Regions from separate parts of the Homo sapiens genome. Here region 2 is linked to region 1. The links come from fine-mapping of genetic effects on gene expression. A gene starts in region 1. The other region holds a variant in brackets. All regions are shown on one strand. Distances are between the middles of the regions.

The links. PIP is the estimated chance that this variant, and not a neighbour inherited with it, causes the effect. A credible set is the group of variants that fine-mapping cannot tell apart.
Region 2: its variant is the best candidate, but not a certain one, in a credible set for the expression of SVIP in minor salivary gland (GTEx, PIP 0.59).

Annotation. Positions count from the first base shown.
Region 1 is chr11:22,825,029-22,834,403 of GRCh38, reverse strand. It overlaps SVIP (small VCP interacting protein), which reads left to right and starts at 4,603. Exons shown (of 4, transcript NM_148893.3): 1 at 4,603-4,709; 2 at 6,530-6,580; 3 at 7,084-7,197. The coding sequence starts at 4,656. LINC02718 (long intergenic non-protein coding RNA 2718) reads right to left here and starts at 4,990. Exons shown (of 11, transcript NR_187210.1): 1 at 4,793-4,990. RefSeq lists a silencer at 4,479-4,548 and an enhancer at 4,699-5,008.
Region 2 is chr11:22,798,059-22,807,433 of GRCh38, reverse strand. The region is part of intron 7 of GAS2 (growth arrest specific 2); the gene reads right to left. Among named protein-coding and RNA genes, the nearest start is that of LINC02718, 27 kb to the left of the region's middle. The variant A/G (reference allele first, on the strand shown) is at 5,698.

The DNA of each region.
Region 1 (9,375 bases):
TTCAAAATATGGCAAAGAAACATGTTTTTGGGTAACATATTTTAATTTTCTTCTTTGTCTTGTAATGTTATGCCAGAGTTAGGTTGGAAAGTAAATCATGATATACGGGGTTAAATAAAATCCATCTGATGAGAATTTATGATTTGTAGGGCATGACTCCCCAGACCCCTTAGATAGGGATTTGGGCAAGATAAAAAAATTAAGAGTTCAGTCCTCATTTCCATACATGTAAAATATAAATAAGTTATTCCATTTTTAGGTAGTCAAGACAAAAAAAACTTCACACAAATAACTGCACACAAATATTCACGGAGCTTTGTTCATAATGGCCTGAAAAGACTCAAAGGAGCCCATACATCCATGAATAGGTAAATTGACATTTTGGGGGTTTTGGGGGGTTGTTGTTATTGTTTGTTTGTTTTGAGATGGGGTCTCACTCCATTGCCCGGGCTGGAGTGCAGTGGTGCAATCATGGTTCACTCCAGCCTCGACTTCCTTGGGCTCATGTGTTTCTCCACCCTCAGCCTCCCCAGTCACTGGGACTACAGGCACACACCACCGTGCTCAGCTATTTTTTGTATTTTTTGTAGAGATGAGGTCTCTCCATTCGACTTCCTTGGGCTCATGTGTTTCTCCACCCTCAGCCTCCCCAGTCACTGAGACTACAGGCACACACCACTGTGCTCAGCTATTTTTTGTTATGTTTTGTAGAGATGGGGTCTCCCCATGTTGCCCAGGCTGGTCTCAACCTCCTGGGCTTGAGTGATCCTACGTCTTCAGCCTCCTGAATAGCTGATACTACAGGCAAGAGCCACTGTGCCCCCTGGTAAATTAACTTTTTAAATGTAGCATACTTATAACAATGTAATATTAAGAAGCAGACACAGTAACACTGATGAATTTCAGAAACTTTATGTAGAAGGAGCAGAGCCAGACAAAAGAAGCACTTACGATATATTTCCATTTCTATGAAATTTTAGAAAGTGTGTAGTTAATTAATAGAGACAGAAAGCAAATCAATATTTGTCGTGGGCTAGAGGTCAATGGGGGATTGTTTGGAAAGTGGCACAAGGAAAACTTTTAGAGTAATGGAAATGTTGTATACCTTCTTATGGTGTTTACAAGAGCACATATAATTGTCAAAAACTCAACTAATATCCAAGACAATTTGCACCTGACAGAGTTAAACAGCAACAAAAGACTTTATTTAAGACCACTGTAATAAGGCACAGAAAGAGGGCTCAATGCCACTGAAAAAAAAAGCAGGAGAGATTTTAAGCACAGAAGTCCCTAAGTGGAAAAGTACTGTATGTTGGTCAATAGGGTTAGACCATCTGTGTTTGCTGATTGGTGCTTAGGGAAGTCAGGCTCCTACTCTCCCACAGAGATTAGGAGATAAAAAAAGGTTCTACCTTTCTTAATTATTGAATTTCAAAGAGATGACACCCAGGTTTTTGAGAAAGATGGTTCTGCATTGTAGAACTGATAAGAGGCCAGAAGATTTACATCTTAAAGGAGCAGAGAAAATGTACACTTTGCAAGTTTTTTTTAAAGTGAATGGTCTAAAAATAGGGAGGTCAGAGGCCAACAATCAGGAAGAACCCTGTCTAAAGGTTAGTCAGGCAGCAGGAAACATTAGGCCATCTTGGTCAGTGACTGTATCTGCACTGTTTTTTTCTATACGTAATACCCATGATAAAGTTTAATTTATAAATTAGGTGCAGTAACAGATTAACAACTAATAATAAAACAATTATAACAATATGCCATTATCACTAATTTTGCACTTTGGGTCATTAATATGTAAAATAAGGGTTATTTGAACACCAGCACTGTAATACCAACAGTTAATGTGACAACTGAGATAGCTACTAAGTGACTAATGGGCGGGGTGGCTTAGACACTGTGGATACGCTGTACAAAGGGATGATTCACATCATTCACATCCTGTGTGTGATGGATTAGGACAGCCTAAGATTTGATCAGATACTTAGAAGGCAAGCAATTTATAATTTACAAATTATTTCTGGAATTTTCCATTTAATATTTTTGGACCTCAGTTGACCATGCAGTTGACAATACATGTGCAAAACATATATTGTATATTTCATTTATGTAAAACTTACAGATTATAGTGATATTAATGTTGAATAAATAAACTGAAACTTTATCAAAACCAGGAATGGAAGGCACTACTGTACACCTAAAGTAGATGTGTTAATTGTATTTTATATCTCAATAATGTTTATTAAAAATAAAAATCAATAAACCATGGAAAGTGTTGGGGAAATAATTATGTCATGGAAAGTGTTTTGATAATAATTAAAAACAAAATCTGCCAATGCAGGAAACTCTCCACAAATGCAGAAAAGAAACAGTTTTATCATTGAATAAGCATTAAATCGATTGTGATTTCTATCAGAAGCAATCTACTAAAGAGTTTGCAATGAAAACATTCTTCACCATTTTTATATAGCCTGTCAGATACAGTCCACTACACACATGTTAATTGTTTTTATCTAAAAGAAATCTAAAGGAAAGAATAACACTTGTATCTCTTGACAAGCAGAAAGCTCCATCTTGAAGCCAAGTGCCTAGACAGTAAACTACCATGAAGACGGGGAGACAGGTGCCACTCTGGGATGTTTTCATTTCTAAGAGAAAGCCAATAGGCCTCCAAAGATATTCTGAGGATACAAAACTGGCAAGAGGCTTATTTAGGTTCTTTCTTTCTGATGCAAAACTGGCAAGAGGCTTATTTAGCCTCCCCTGCCCTCCCCTCCCCTCCCCTCCCCTCCTCTCTTTCTTTTCTTTCGACGCAATCTCTCTCTGTTGTGCAGGCTGGAGTGCAGTGGCGCGAGCTCGGCTCACTGCAACCTCCGCCTCCCGGGTTCAAACGATTCTCCCTGCTCAGCCTCCGGAGTAGCTGGGATTACAGGCGCCCACCACCATGCCTGGCGAAGTTTTGTATTTTTAATAGAGAAAGGGTTTCCCCACGTTGGTCAGGCTGGTCTTAAACTCCTGACCTCAGGTGATCCACCCACCTTGGCCTCCAAAAGTACAGGAGTAAGCCACCATGCCTGGCCTTTTTTTTTTTTTCATACATTTCAGTGAGACAGAGATAGCGCTTACAATTTCACGTTTTCTAAACACAATGCTAAAGAGGAGGTGGGTAGTTATCTTTCTCTTTTTGCAACAGAGAACCTTCACTTTTTCTTTATATATTTTTATTTACCCTTAGAAACGGCCCATGCAATCGAATAATAGTATTAAAAAAGCATCATCCCCTATTATTTAAGGAATAAACTACTGTTTCATTCAATAACATGGAAGAATTTAGAAAATATTATGGCTTTTGCAAAACATATTGTATATTTCATTTATGTAAAACTTAAAGACTATAGTGATATTAACATTTATGCAAAACTTAAAGACTAAAGTGATATTAAACAAATTAATAGTTTCCTGGATCTAGGTATAGGATAAAGTATTGAATGGGATTGGGTACAATAGAAGGTTTTTGGGTGATGGAAAACTTACATATCTTGAATGTGGTGATCACATGTTTGTTAAAACTCAGTGAACTCTACAATCAAAATAAGTGCATAATATTATATGTAAATTATACATCTATAAAAAATTAACCAGCAAGTATATCAAAAAGCCGACAATGGTTTCTGAGACGCTGTCACTATACATCCTACCTTTTTGTAATGTTTGAAAATTTTTACATAAGCAGAAATAACTAATAGAATGCAAAAATAAAATAAAATAAAATAAAAGCATTTGTGTGGAGACGAGATCAGTAACTTTAGTATCACCTGTGGGTTTACTGGAAATGAATCTCAGGTCCCACCTTATACTTACTAAATCAGCAAGTAAATTTTAACTAGTTGCCCAGCTGATTCTCATACTTATTAAAATTTGAGGAGAATCATTAAAACATTTCTCAGTAGATGAAACTTTATTATTTCTCTCGGAAGGATAAATGACTTCTAAATACCAGAAACTAGTGGAAATGTCAACTAATGCCACATTTATGACGCTAGATTCATCGTCATAATAATGGATTTTATATTCTGCCCTCTGTTCTGGAATAGCACTGTCACTAAGAAGGGAGAAAAGGGTGCTGATGTTTACTTGGAATTTTGGCTTTAATTTCTAGGACACCAGAGTCCCATCTCATAAAAAAAGGTAGCATGAACTACCCAGAGCTGTACCACTCATTCATTTATAAATGGTAAGGCAAGGTTAGCAGGAAGAGCTTTGGAACCGTAGCGAAGCTTTTCCATCCCTTCCCTGCATTGCTACCCACAGCAGGTGTTTCCTGGAACCTAGGCTTTGGCCACAAGCCCAGCGGTCGCGGGGCGGGGGTAGGCGGAGCTGTGGGTGAGGAAGGGGCAATGCCTTAAGGGGGCGCAGCTGAGCTGTGGGACTGGTTGGTGTCGCGAGAAGAGGGGGGCGTTGCCGCAGAGAGGCGAGGCGGGGCAGAGCTGCGGGGTGGGGGCGGGGCGTTGCCGCTGGGGCGGAGCCGAGCCAGTGGAGGGCGGTGGGGGCGGGGCAAGCGCGGAGGACCAGGGACCGGCTCCGGACCGCGCAGTTAGCGCCGCCTGGCCTGGGCCGGACCCGGTCAGGGTTCTCAAGCTGTCGTCCCTATGGGGCTGTGTTTTCCTTGTCCCGGGGAGTCCGCGCCTCCCACGCCGGACCTGGTGAGTAGAGCAGGTCCCTGCGTCCGCCGGGCCGCGCCTTGAGCACCTGTCCTCGGGTTGCGGGGCGGGCCGAGCCATTGTACCTGGTGGCGCAGGTCGAGAGCCCGCTGGGGGACCCTGCTAGCGAGGACGGGTGGACGCGTCAGGAGGGTCGTTGGGTCCTGTCAGAGCGACCTAGGCCGTCGCCTCCGTGTAGATCTCCACTTTTGTAACAAAAAGTTGTCGAAAGGCGGCTGTGGCGTCTTTCTACCTTCCACTGACTTTAGCTGCGCCGGATCTTCATAGGGCGCCGGCGCACGCAGAGGGCGTTACGCGTGGGACATTCCGGGGGATGTGGTAGATGGAATTCGGCGCGAAAAGACATTGCTTTCTCCGGGAGCTCTTTAGTCGTCTAGGAGATGTGCGTTTTCAACTGTGTCTACCATCTTTTAAAAGAAGGTGCTCGGAAAGTCGCTTATACGCCTGAGCTTTATCGGATATGTTTTTTTAATGATTTCTTTTTAGTATTTATCTCATTCTTTTACGTTCTCCCTTTAAAAGAATATGTAGTACAGAGTGTCCAATTTATAATGTCGTATTTAATAAAAATACTGGACACCCAGTTACATTCGAATTTCAGATATACAAGGAATACGTTTATAATATCGTTTTGTGCCATGCAATATTAGGGATCTAGTTCTACAAAAACATTACTCATTGCTTATCTGAAATTCAAATGTAGCTAGTGGGTGTGTGGTACAATACATGTACACTTTTTGTAGCTTTCTGTTAACAGTATCTTTACATTAGTACTCCTTACAGGGAGTTAACATAAACCTGTTTCTCTTCTCTAGCTAAAAATTAGTTGAAGAAAATGAAGTATTTTTGGGAAGTACATTAACTCTTCAGCTACTATAGATACTAAAAATTTAGTACTTATAAATTTGATGTGGGAAAGTTCAGCTTCTCTTTGTTGCTGCTGTTGTTTTAAATTAAGTTGATTTTGTTGTTCTGGCTGTCGATAAAATATAACATGTCAGATTTGTTAAGCCCTCCCCCCCATCCTCATACTATACCCTCTTCCCTTGATAACCACACGGCTCACTGCTTGGATGTCACTTTACCAGTGAAGCTTTTGCTGACCACGTTAAACAAAATATATTCCCCACAATACCACCCACCCATTCTCCCATTACTTATCTGCCATGCCATCTGACAGACGTTTACTTACTTCATTATATTTGTCTGTGCGCCCGCAATTGGAATTTGTTTCATTTGGGAGGAGACATTTATCTATGTTTTTACACTGTTGTATCCCAGCACCTAGAAAAAGGGCTTTATAATAAGTAGTACATGGTCTAGAAAAATAGCATTCACTGTTTTCTGATATGGAACAATACCTCTCATGAAATTACTCCAGTCCTTCCCTCCTACACACTGAGATTAGCCCACTTCATTTATTAACCTTTCCTAAAAACACCAGGTTACTTCAGACTCCATTTTAACCGGCAGTAACAAACCATGTATTTTCCTTTTTGTATTTGTAAACATTATTTGTTTTGTTATTGCCCTGACTAGCTTGTAGGCCTTTTTATTAAAAAAGAGAGTAAATAAATGATTATATAGGTAAACCTTGTATCTGTTTTAGCATGTGCTGATTTGAAGGCATATTGATTAGGAGAATGAAATTCAAAAAGTTGAGTAGTGGCATTCTTTGTGGGACATTTAGGGCCAGTACCGAATATTTTTGTAAATTGTTATAGTGCCTATGAAATAAATGTGAATAATTTATTAATAATAATGTTTGTTATTTTAATACATATTTTTACACATTTATTTAGGAAGAGAAAAGAGCAAAGCTTGCAGAGGCTGCAGAGAGAAGACAAAAAGAGGTAAGATTAAAGATCAAGTTTTGCCTACTTAGATAATTGAGTTTGGACTTTATTCTTCATAGATGTCCATAGCTAGATTTTCTAACGCAAATGGCCTTTGATATCCCAAAAATTTACATTTAAATGTAATTATTTTCAAAATGATTTCCTTATTTATATGAATTGCATTAATATATTTATATTAATATATGAAAACTATCATATCTTCTCTAAATTCAGATACTCTTTTAGTAACATCCTTCCTTTTAAAATGGCTGTGCATTGTAAAATACTTACAGATGTGAAGCAAGTTTAGGGGAAAATTTGTATAGTTACAAAATACCCAGTGAAGAAATGATGTTTTATGTAAGGCTGTTGTAGAAACACTCCTTCTATGTTACCAAAAATAAACCAACTCCCTACCCCCAAAGAAAAACCTAGAAAGCAAAGATAGACAAAAAAATGTTTTGCACACTGGACAGATTTTTGTTGTCTTTCTGTTTTTCTTATCAAATTTCTTCAAGGCTGCATCTCGGGGAATTTTAGATGTTCAATCTGTGCAAGAAAAGAGAAAGAAAAAGGAAAAAATAGAAAAACAAATTGCTACATCCGGGCCCCCACCAGAAGGTGGACTTAGGGTAAGTATTAAAATTTTCTTAGTGATTAACTTAACTGGCATTTTAAAAAAACTTAAGTAGCAATCCATTCATAATTTTCTCCTGAAATGTATTATCAGAAAATTTTGAAATAGTTTAAAAGCATGAGTAGTAAATATTGGAAGTAATACCAATTTATTTTAACATTTATTGGAATCAATTAGCTTTTTTCCCCAAAATGAAATAATAGATTTATTATTTTAACACTATATATATTTTAATACTCTTATGCTTACTACTAATCTTAAATAATTCAAAAATTCAAGCAATATGGAGAAGTATAAAGAAGTGTAAAAGTCATCCAAACTAAGTACCATTTTGACAGACATAATTTCTAACCTTCATTTATATATCTTATTAAATTGGATTACGCTATAAGTTCTGTTTTATGGCCTGAGCTCTTTTACGCATTGATTTGGAATCTTTGATCTTTCCATTGCCCCTGTTTATTATAGTTATGTAAATGTTAATTTGGATTACAGAATGTATACAGGTGTGGGTATCATACACATACCTCCCTAGATATGGATCCCAGAGCTAGACACTGGGAATATAATGGTGGACAAGTTAAGCAGAGTCTCTGAATGCTGGAGTCTTTACACTCTAGCAGGACTTTAAAGGATTTATTTTTAAAATCCCTTAAAGCTCAGGAAAATAATGGCTCAGATATTAAGAATTTATTCTTGGTCCATTTTTAAAGTAAATAGTAGTATATTTGTGAAAAGGACAATGTCTTTAATTTCAGTCATTTATATTTAACTTGTCAATGATTTATGAGTACCTTTCAACAGATTTATTGGTTTTTTTTCTCTCAAAACTACACACACACACACATGCACATACATATACATGGACATATACACATACACTTGCCTACATGTAGATACTCTCGTAACTTGTGGGGCAGGCAGTTTATGAACACCCTGAGCAGTTGATTCTGGCTCAAGAATATCACAGAAATAAGAATGTGTGTCTGTGTATTTTACTATTGTACGTTACTTCATCTTATATCATTTAACGAATGAAAATTTATGAAGTTTTTTTATGGTGAACTTTTAGCAATATATAATTAGTTTCAATATAAGGTAAATAAGTCTGACCATTTTGCTTATGTTTTTTATAATTCCATAATAGAACAGAATAGGTCTAGTGTAAAGTAAAACAGTTGGGTGATAACGAGGTCAATTCTTTATCATATCTCAATATTCTGTTGAGATAAAGTGCTGTTTCACTAGGTTTACTTCATATAGGGTTGTCAAAAACAAACACAAAATTACAAAAGTTAAATTGTAGGACTGGAAATAATGAGATCCACTATTTCACAGTAGAAGTGGTGAAGGTATTAAGTTAAAGTCATACGTAATGTTATAGGAAAAGGATAATTTAATCAACACTTAATCATAATTAAGAAGACACTTCACAAGTTCTAACCTAATGAAATTAACATCAGCTTTTAAAGTATAATAAAGAAAGAGGCTTTCTTAAACTTGAAGCTTCCACACTCTGAAGTCTATAGATTAAAAAAAAAATTTAGGCCTTATATTACTTACAATCCATTCAAAAGTGCTCAAAATGTAAAACATACCCAAAGTTAAATTTAGTTTCTGTTTTTCTTTGTGTACTGTTCTTGTAAGAAATCTCTCAAACTCACTTAGTAAAAATGACCTTCAGGACCTTGAAACTATATAGTGGCAGGAGGATTTTCTCCAGTGGCTCACTGTCATTAGCCACTGCTGTTGTCCACTGTGAGTAATTTTTCCTTGGAATATTCCTCATCACCTACCACTACCACACTAGCTTCAAGTGGCATGCTCCATTCTGCTTGACACATGCACAACATGTCAAGAGCATGAAGTGAAAAAATTCTGGAAGGCTCAGGGATAACAGAAGGGAAAAATACAAGGCAGAAGTACTTAACCCTCAAAACGCTTGGCCTATGGTCCTTTAATGGCTGCTGTCTGGCTTGTTTCATGGGCTGGCCTGAAGTATTGGTAGAGTCTTCCTAAGGTAGGAAGGTTAGGAAGACTCTTCCCTAGGTAGAGTCTTTCTGACCTGACTCTACCTAGAGTATGAGTCTAGTTTGCATTCCCTGTCTTCATGCCTTTCACCTATTCATCTCCTGACCAGTGCTGCATCTTTCCAGGGTAATTAGCATGGGTA
Region 2 (9,375 bases), 27 kb after region 1:
AATTGTTTTCCTTTTAGAAACAGATGCAACTTCCTTTAAAACATCTTACGTGAGACACTGCCTTATACGGACACCTTAAGAATGGGACATTACTAATAGTAAAATCAGATATCAGAGGTTTCTTTCTCTTGGAAGATTTCTCCTAGGTATCAGCCTTAGTAGTTTGTTTGGATTTTCCAATTATTGCAAAGACAGTTTTATATTTTTCCTGATCTTCTCTATGGACCTAGTCAGTGCTCTGCAGCTTGGGTCCTTATAAATTTATCAGAACTGTAAAATGCTTCTCTCTTGCTTTGAAGGAGTCGTTTTTTCTTTTTTCTTTGCTTTTCTGTTTCTAAGCTACACTGAAAAAAATGAAAACATACATAAATACACTATTGCCTTTCACTGAATGCTTCCTTGATGCTGTATTTGACAAGGGTGTAAGCATCCATGATTCATGTACTTACCCATAATACTTAAAACAGAAAGGACTTTCTACATCTTCAAAGAAGAATATTGATTTCATATTGATGAGGAGTAATTGTGGAATCCATTACCTTTCCTCATGCCTCATTTTGGCTACTCTTGGGAGATGGAAGGGTTTTAGGTCAATATTATGAGGTTTCCACAGCAAACCTTACAACCTCTCTCCATGAAATAGGTGGCCCTGTCTGGGGATATACTCTAGTAAACAGATTTTCAATTCTGAGTTATTCTTGCTGACGTCTCAGTTAGACCTTGCTAATTAGTAACCTATAATTTGCTAAGAAAGCCAGTGGCTAAGCTGTTTGAAGGTTTCAAGCTTGGGATTAAGATATTAGGGTCATACAAAAGATAACAAGTGTTGGCAAGAATGTGGAGAAAAGGGAACCTTTACACATTATTGGTGGAAATGCAAGTTAGTATAGCCATTATGGAAAACAGCATAAAGATTCCTCAAAATATTAAAAATAAAGGTACCATGTGATCCAGCAATTCCACCACTAGGTATATATACAAGCGAAATGAAATCAGTATATCAAAGTGCAGATATCTGCACTCCCAGGTTTACTGCAGCACTATTCACAATAGCCAAGATATGGCGTCAACCTACATGTCCGTTAATGGATGAATGGGCAGAGAAAATGTGGTTTATATACATAATGGAATACTACTCAGCCATAATACAGAAGAAAATCCTGTTGTTTGCAACAACGAGAATGAACCCAGAGGACATTGTGGTACATGAAAGAAGCCAGGCACAGAAAGATAAAAATACCATATGATTTTGTCGGAGGCATGTGAATGAGAGCAACTCCATCTTGAATAGGGGCTTGGTAAAATGAGGCTGAGACCTACTGGGCTGCATTCCCAGATGGTTAAGGCATTCTAAGTCATAGAATGAGATATTTCACAGGATAAGTCATAGGATCAGATATAGGATAAGGTCAGCACAAGACACAGCTCATAAAAACCTTGCTGATACAACAGGTTGCAGTAAAGAAGCCAGCCAAAACCCATCAAAACCAAGCTGGCGATGAGAGTGACCTCTGGTCATCCTCACTGGACACTCCCACCAGTGCCATGACATTTTACAGATGCCATGGCAACATCAGGAAGTTACCCTATATGGTCCAAAAGGGAGAGGCATGAATAGTCTACCCCTTGTTTAGCATTTCATCAAGAAATAATCAGAATATGGGCAACCAACAGCACTCAGGGATGTTTTGTTTATGGAGTAGCCATTCTTTTATTTCTTTACTTTCTTAACATACTTGCTTTCACTTTACTCTGTGGACTTATCCAAGAATCCACTCTTGGTGTCTGGATCCAGACCCCTTTTCTGCAACAATTTCACTCATATGTGGAATCTAAAGATGTTGATCTCATAGAAGTAGAGAAAAGAATGGTGGTTACTAGAAGCAGAAGTGGTTGGTGGGTGAGGGTGATAGGAAGGTGTTAGTCAAAGGATATATAATTACAGAAAGATAGGAGGAATAAGTTCAAAAGATTTGTTGTACTGCATGATGACTATAGTTAAGAATGATATATTGTATTCTTCCTTAATTAAAAAAATGCAAAAAGAGTGGATGTTAAGAGTTCTTGCCACAAAAATGATAACTATGTAGGTAATACATTTGTTAATCAGCTCTATTTAGTGATTCCACAATGCATATGTACTTTAAAACTTTACGTTATACATGATGAATACATATAATTTTATCTGTCAATTTAAACAAATACATATGTAAATAGAAGAGGACCCATATATAAATTCTTTTTTAAAAAAGATATTACTGTCATAGAGATTTATAGCTCTGATTATAGAGATTAAAATTCCATGCTTTTCTGGTATGTGACCGATCTAAAAAAAAAAAATTGAACACTCACCTCCATCTCCATAAACCAAACTCCCACTGTTTAACCTAAAAGCAAATCAGCCTGCTATTATTATTTAAACTCTTCCCTCCCTTTCCCTAGAATGCTTGCACTACAATGAGCTTTTCCAGCACAGATGCTGAGCTGGTTTAGAAGGAAGATTATATACTTCATCCAAGAACTCTTCCATCTCACAGATTAGTGACATCAGGCCAATTGCAATTAAGTGATCCTTTTAGTTTTGGTCAGCTCCATTTCCCATTTTTATCTATTATTCTCAAACACACTACTTGTCCCCACCCTCCATCAGCCTACCAATGACTTCACCTTTATCAAGCATGCATCCTCTCTTGACACCTCTACTGGCCAATATACCTGAATCTACACTTATCATTTACTCCACCTTTCTTATCTCAGAAGTTCTCCTGTCCAAGTTCAATTCCTCCCACTATGTTCTAACTCTCATTAATTTCCACTCTTACTTTCATACTTTCTCCTTACATCTGACCTTCTTGATAGTTACATTCACACTTGGTGTCTTCACTTGCTCATCACGGTACAACCTACAGTACACTTTGCTTCTGCCCTCTACCTCTTAACTGACTGCACAGAGAAAGGAAGCCAGACGGCTTCTAATGTATCAAATACAATATATGGTCCTTAAACTTTATTTTTCATGATAACTTTGTCAAGCAAGGTATCTAATGATATTGCCCACTCCTTCCTTGAAACTCCCCACTTCTTGACTACCTGTGACAAGTCTGTCTCCTGAATTGCCTGCTACCTATCTCATTGTTCTTTCTCTGCCTCCTTGATAGGTTACATTTCTTCTACATTGTTAAGTTTTGCCATTCTAACATATTCTGTCCTTTGTCTACTGCTTTTCTGACTCTAACCATTCTCTGTTTGTAACCTCATGGTTTTCACTACCACCTACTTTTGTTTCCCAAATTATAACTCTAGCCCTTGCTTCTTCCCTGATGTTCAAAACATCACCCCCAACTGGAAAATCTTCCATGGTCATCTCCTTCCCCAGATAAGTGAATCCTTCCTTTCTGTGTACTGTTTAGTTTCCAGGTGATTTCACTGTTACATGCATCTCACAATATTGCAATTGCTGATTTACCTGTATGTCCCTTTTCAGAATATGGAAAATCTTCCATGTTCATCTCCTTCCCCAGATAAGTGAACCCTTCCTTGCTGTGTACTGTTTAGTTTATACATGATTTCACAGTTACATGAATCCCACAATATTGCAATTGCTGATTTACCTGTATGTCCCTTTTCAGAATATGTGAGCTCTCTGAAGAGAGGGATGATGTAGTCTTCATTTTTGGAATCTCATATATGCAAACTCAGAACAGGGTCAATACTGTTATCATATAATACTTCTTTTCATTTGATACTTCCACAGGTTGTACCTACTTTATCTAATCTATAATGTCATTATCAGTATTACTCCTTTTATAGATAGGAATACTGATGCTCTGAGAAGTTAAGCAACTTAGGCAGGATCACACAACAAATCAGTAGCAGAACTGGGACAAGAATCCTTTATTCCATTAAAACATACCCACATATTCTGCAAAGTGCTAGATTTTGGTTTTCACCCATGCTTGGTTACTTATCTGTGATAATTCAGCACAGGCAAGATATCACTAATATCAGAAGTAGTAAGTAGTGTAAGCAGATTAACTGTGCTCATTTAAAATGATTCATAGGCTTATGTCCTAACAAATCTTAAATAAACATTAAATTTAATTTCAGAAGATTATCCTCAAGTAGCCCTAATTATTTCAGAAGAAAACGTGTCTAGTGAGGTAACACGACGGAATACACTAGTTATCTGTTGGCATAAGTAAGAAGGGGCTTTGATTTCTGTCCAGTGTATATCTCACTGGTTTTTTATTTTAATGCTTCACAGAGTTGAACTTTGTGTTCTTCATTCTAAAAGGTAGCGGCTCTTGACCAGTAGCATCAATGCATATGTCAATTGAGGAATGGTTGTGCAACACGTAACAATGAGAACACATTCTGAGAATGTGTGTTAGGCAATTTCACCACTGTGTGAACATCATAGAGTGTACTTACACAAAACGAGATGGCACAGCCTTCTACACACCTAAGCTACATAAGATAGCCTGTTGCTTCCAGGCTACAAACCCGTACAGCAAATTACTGTACTGAATACATAGGCAATTATAACACATGGTAAGTATTTGTGTATCTGAAGATATCCAAACATAGAAAAAGTACAGTAAAAATCTGTATTAAAATCTTACAGAACCATTCTTATTGACTGAAACATTGTTATAGAGTACATGACTATATTGAATATCGAGTATTTAGTCCTATGTTGGTGTTTGTTATTTTTCTTTATTTTTGTTGTTGATAAGAAATAAAAGAGTTGCTACAAATAGCCTCCAACACTATAAGTTGCAAAGCAGTAGTTTTTGCATGTTAGGTTTTATTATGGCTGTCATCATTTTTAACAATTGGCTTCATTCCTTACTGTGCCTCTGATCATAGCAAAGTCAAGGCGATCCATTACTGACTTAAGCAACATTTCTCAATTCTGAAGGGGGAAAAAAAAGACCGTGACCAAAATCTTAGCTCAGCTTGGGTTTTTTTTTTTTTTAATACTTTAAGTTCTAGGGTACATGTGCACAACCTGCAGGGTTGTTACATATGTATACATGTGCCATGTTGGTGTGCTGCACCCATTAACTCCCCATTTACATTAGGTATATCTCCTAATGCTATCCCTCCCTCCTCCCTCCACCCCACAACAGGCCCCCATGTGTGATGTTCCCCACCCTGTGTCCAAGCGTTCTCATTGTTCAATTCCCACCTGTGAGTGAGAACATGCAGTGTTTGGTTTTCTGTCCTTGTGATAGTTTGCTCAGAATGATGGTTGGAAATTATCTCAGCTTTTATCCCAGTGTCCCTAATGAAGCTCTATAAGCATACTCAGGCTGTTGCAAACACTGTAAATCATTTCTTTGTTTCTATTAATGATACACATTCCTTGTCAAGAGGAAAGAATCAATATGTCTCAAAGTTGTCTTTTTGCTTTTTTTTTTATATTTTCTCTCAGTAATGAGAAGAAACACTCCCATTCTTAATCAAGAGCATTTTGTTTCATGACTTTGTCTTACTGTGATGCTTAATTATGTGTTTTAATTAGAAAACCTCTTCATATGTGACAGTAAGAGGGAAAGTGTTTCCTTGAATGACATAGAGTCATACAATAGTAGAGTGCTTACTATGTGCCAAGTAATCTACGAATATGCCCTGTTGAAATTAAGAGGATTAAAAAGAAACATCGAGGTCACTGGCAATGTTGCACAGATGCAC[A/G]GTCTGAGAGGTCACATAGGTGGTTCACCAGAGCCAGGCTAGAAACCACATCTTTATTCCCCATCTAGCATATGACCTTAGAATTAAGGAGCTGTGTTATTTCAAAAATTATTTTCCTAATAATGAATGCAATATTTAATGGTCCGTGTATCATTTAATATATTGATACAGCAGTGATTTATTACATCATGTCACGTAAGTCACTATCTATGTTTTACTGAATTGAATACACATTTTTGAGACCTTTTAATTTTATTTTCCTAACATTAAATAATAAAAAAAAAAACTATCCCATGCCCCCACCCCAATCAAGTTTCTTAGCTCATCCAGATACTTAATCCAAAGGGGAAAAATAAGTTGAAATGAAATAAGTTAACTTTCCCATGTTAACTTAGAACATAATGAAAATTTCGTAAGTTGTAGAAATGATCAGTCAGCAGCTTCCTGTGGGTCTTGGGGAGGTCACTGCAGTATCAAGGGGTCTAGTGCTCTGGCTTCTATGATATGTGATAACAGGATTTCAGAAAGGAGTTTTTTTTCCCCTGTCTCTTAGTTATGTAGTTTAGCAAGACAGGCTGGAATCACATTATATGGAGGTAAGAACTTAAAGCAATAAAAAAAGAAGAATGTCTTTTCCTTTTTCTTGGGAACATTTGTGTTTAGAAACAAATATATCAACTCGCTTTTCATTGAAAAGGTAAAGTCTACATTCATGTAGATCACAGAAAATCATATGTTTTACTAAATGAAAAAGTAATGGCCACATAGGAGAGCCAGAAAAAAATATGCATTTATTGGTAATGTACTTGTTTTTTAAGATAACCAAGCTGTATATATCCTAGCTATATTACATAAACAACAAACAAGCAAAACCACTAACAAAAATAAAAACTACCCAACAGGAAATGTCTTTTCAATGAGAATTTTAAATTAAAAGTTCATGTTTATATTTTATAGCTTTATTTAATTCCCCAGCATAGATCTGCTTGAATGTCCCTGTCTGTTTGAAATCGTAATTCGTATGAAATGTGTCAGGTGTCATCGCCCTCTCAGGATGACAGTGACAAATCTGTTTCATTCTGTCTCTAATATTGTGCTGGTGGCCCTGAAAACTGAGGGCAGCAGGAGTATCTGTCAAGTGCTCTGAACACAGATGTCATTAGACCTTGAGGACATGAACGCTTTTCAGCAGGATGTCTCCTCATCTCTCACTCTTCACTAGTCCACCGTCTACTCCAGAGCCACAGTAATCTTCCTCAAAGGAAAATCTGAACATGCTACCGCCTTCTTAAAAACCTGTGAGGGCTCTCCATTGTCTAGTGTTTCTCAGACATTCTTAGCTACAGCTCACCTGAGAAATATGACTTACAGTAAATTGGCAATGTGGCGAAGATCCTGGGAAAGTAGTAGGGGTAAGGGGAGGACATCAGCATCCCCATGGTGGTCAGAAGCATACATAATGTGGAAAATTTGACAGCAATTCTGATACCTTCTCTTTTACTTCTACCCTCATCCCTCCATAAGAACAAGTAACCTGGCTCGCAAAGCACTTTATAGCCCAGCTACTATTTTCTTTTCCCACATTCTTTCTTACTATGCCAGAGTTATCATGTATGACTGTTCAGGATGTGCACTGCACAACTGTACTATACTGCATGTAGTCCTACCTTCTGAGCCCAGGCCCACTCAACAAATTACTCACTCCATAGATATTGTGAACTCCTTAAAATCCCAAGAAAGTTTCCTGCCTTTATACATGCAGAGAATTGTTCCCCATTCACTAGGTGAATTAAAGTGAATCCCTTCCTTTGATCATTCAACAAATATTTGTTGAGTGGCAGGCAAGGTTATTCCTTGCTAAATTTCATACCCTGGGTGCCTAGCACAGTGCCGGGCACACAATGTTTATTAGATGAATATTAAATGAATAAATGCATGTTAAACGACTGGATGAACAAAACTAATACTTACTAATGCCCCATTCCAAGCAACACTACCTTTATAAATTATATCTGCATTGCTTATTTAGGAAAAGATAGGAGAAAGAGAAAGGTAAAATGGTTTATGCCCTTATTTAGAAAGAGGAGTCTGAAAAAAATCTGTGTGAATGATAATTCAGACCAATTTTTGCTTAGAGAATTTCTTTGAGAGAAAGATAGACGTGGGTCAAAAATTGAAGCTATAACAGGAATTGCATAAGAAAGTGGGAGATTGTATTGAGAATCAAGAGAGAAACAGAAGAAGAAGAAATGGGGAAAAGGGAAGCAAAAAGAGAAGAAACAAATATCATGACAGAATCCATAGTGAATTAAGTACATTATTCTCTTCATGATCTTCATTCACAAGTTCTTATTATACCTGGAATGCATTTTTTAAAATACATGGTTTACAGCAGTAATAAATTGCTTCATAAAATTTTCACCCCTTCCTTTTCTGTCTTTTAATGCTTAAGTGCCATGGTTCCCTCAGTGCAACTCTGGGTCTCATTAAATGATTCCCCACTTAATGGACCACAGAGGCTTATGTTTCTGCACAATCTGTTAACTGCTCTTCACTGAAGTCATCCTTTTAAGAGGCAATGGTATCTGACACCAACTGCCTAGTAGAGACAACCCACCTAAATTTAGATCTGTTCAGCCCCCTGGGATATCATATGCTTCCCAACACCTTCCTGTCAACTCCATTCACTGTGTGTTTTTACAAGCCATCATAACTCGAGAGAAAATATTGTTTTTAGAATGCAGTCATCTGCTCTCCAGAGGAAAAGTGTTAAATTAATTTATAGGACAACAGACTCTGTCATTGTCTAATATTATTCTGAAATGGCATATGCTCAAAATTGGGTGATTGGGAATTCAGCTATCTCCCTGAGGTACCTTGACACATGGAGGAGTGAGACAGCAGGTGTTCCATGGATAGTTTGCCATGTTGAAAGCTTGATTCTAGCATTTTCAAGATAACTGATAAGATCACCTGTTAGCAGGGCAAACTGAGGCACTACTAATAACAAATGACACTTAAAGACGTCCTTGCCAAAGGTGGGGAATTCATTTCAACTTCTCTAGTTACGTGCGATTACAAATTGTTAATCACAGCCCAAATAAACAAGCTTCTGGAATTACCGTTTTACTCTTTACAAGCATTTTTTTCTTATTTATTATCTTATTTACTATCTCATTTTAACTTCCCAATAGTCCTTTAGCTTATTATACCCTTTTCTTAGATAAAACTTCAGAGAGATAAATAACAGTAAACAGAGCAGAAGCTCCTATTTGTTTTTCCTTTATCAGGCTGCCAACTTGCTGTATGACCAGAATAAATTTCTTTAATCTGTGTCTCAGTTTCTCATCTGCAAAATAATGACTATAGTAATTCCTTCCTCCCATAGTTGTTCAAACACAGATATTAATATGTGTAAGCATGTAGAAACAGTGCCTGGAACATGGTGTAGACTCAATAATAAATAGCCTGCTATTGTTATTTTTAAATAATAATGTTGTGCTGCTGCTGCTGCCACTGATAATGATAAGGTTCTTACAGGTTTTATTTCATTTAATCCTTGGAGCAACTCTAAGTGGTTTGCATTATGTTCATATTTAAAAATGAGAAAACAGTGGCTCGACAAGGTTAAGTGAATTGCCCAAGGTCACCTAGCTAAGAAGCAACGAAGTTCAGATT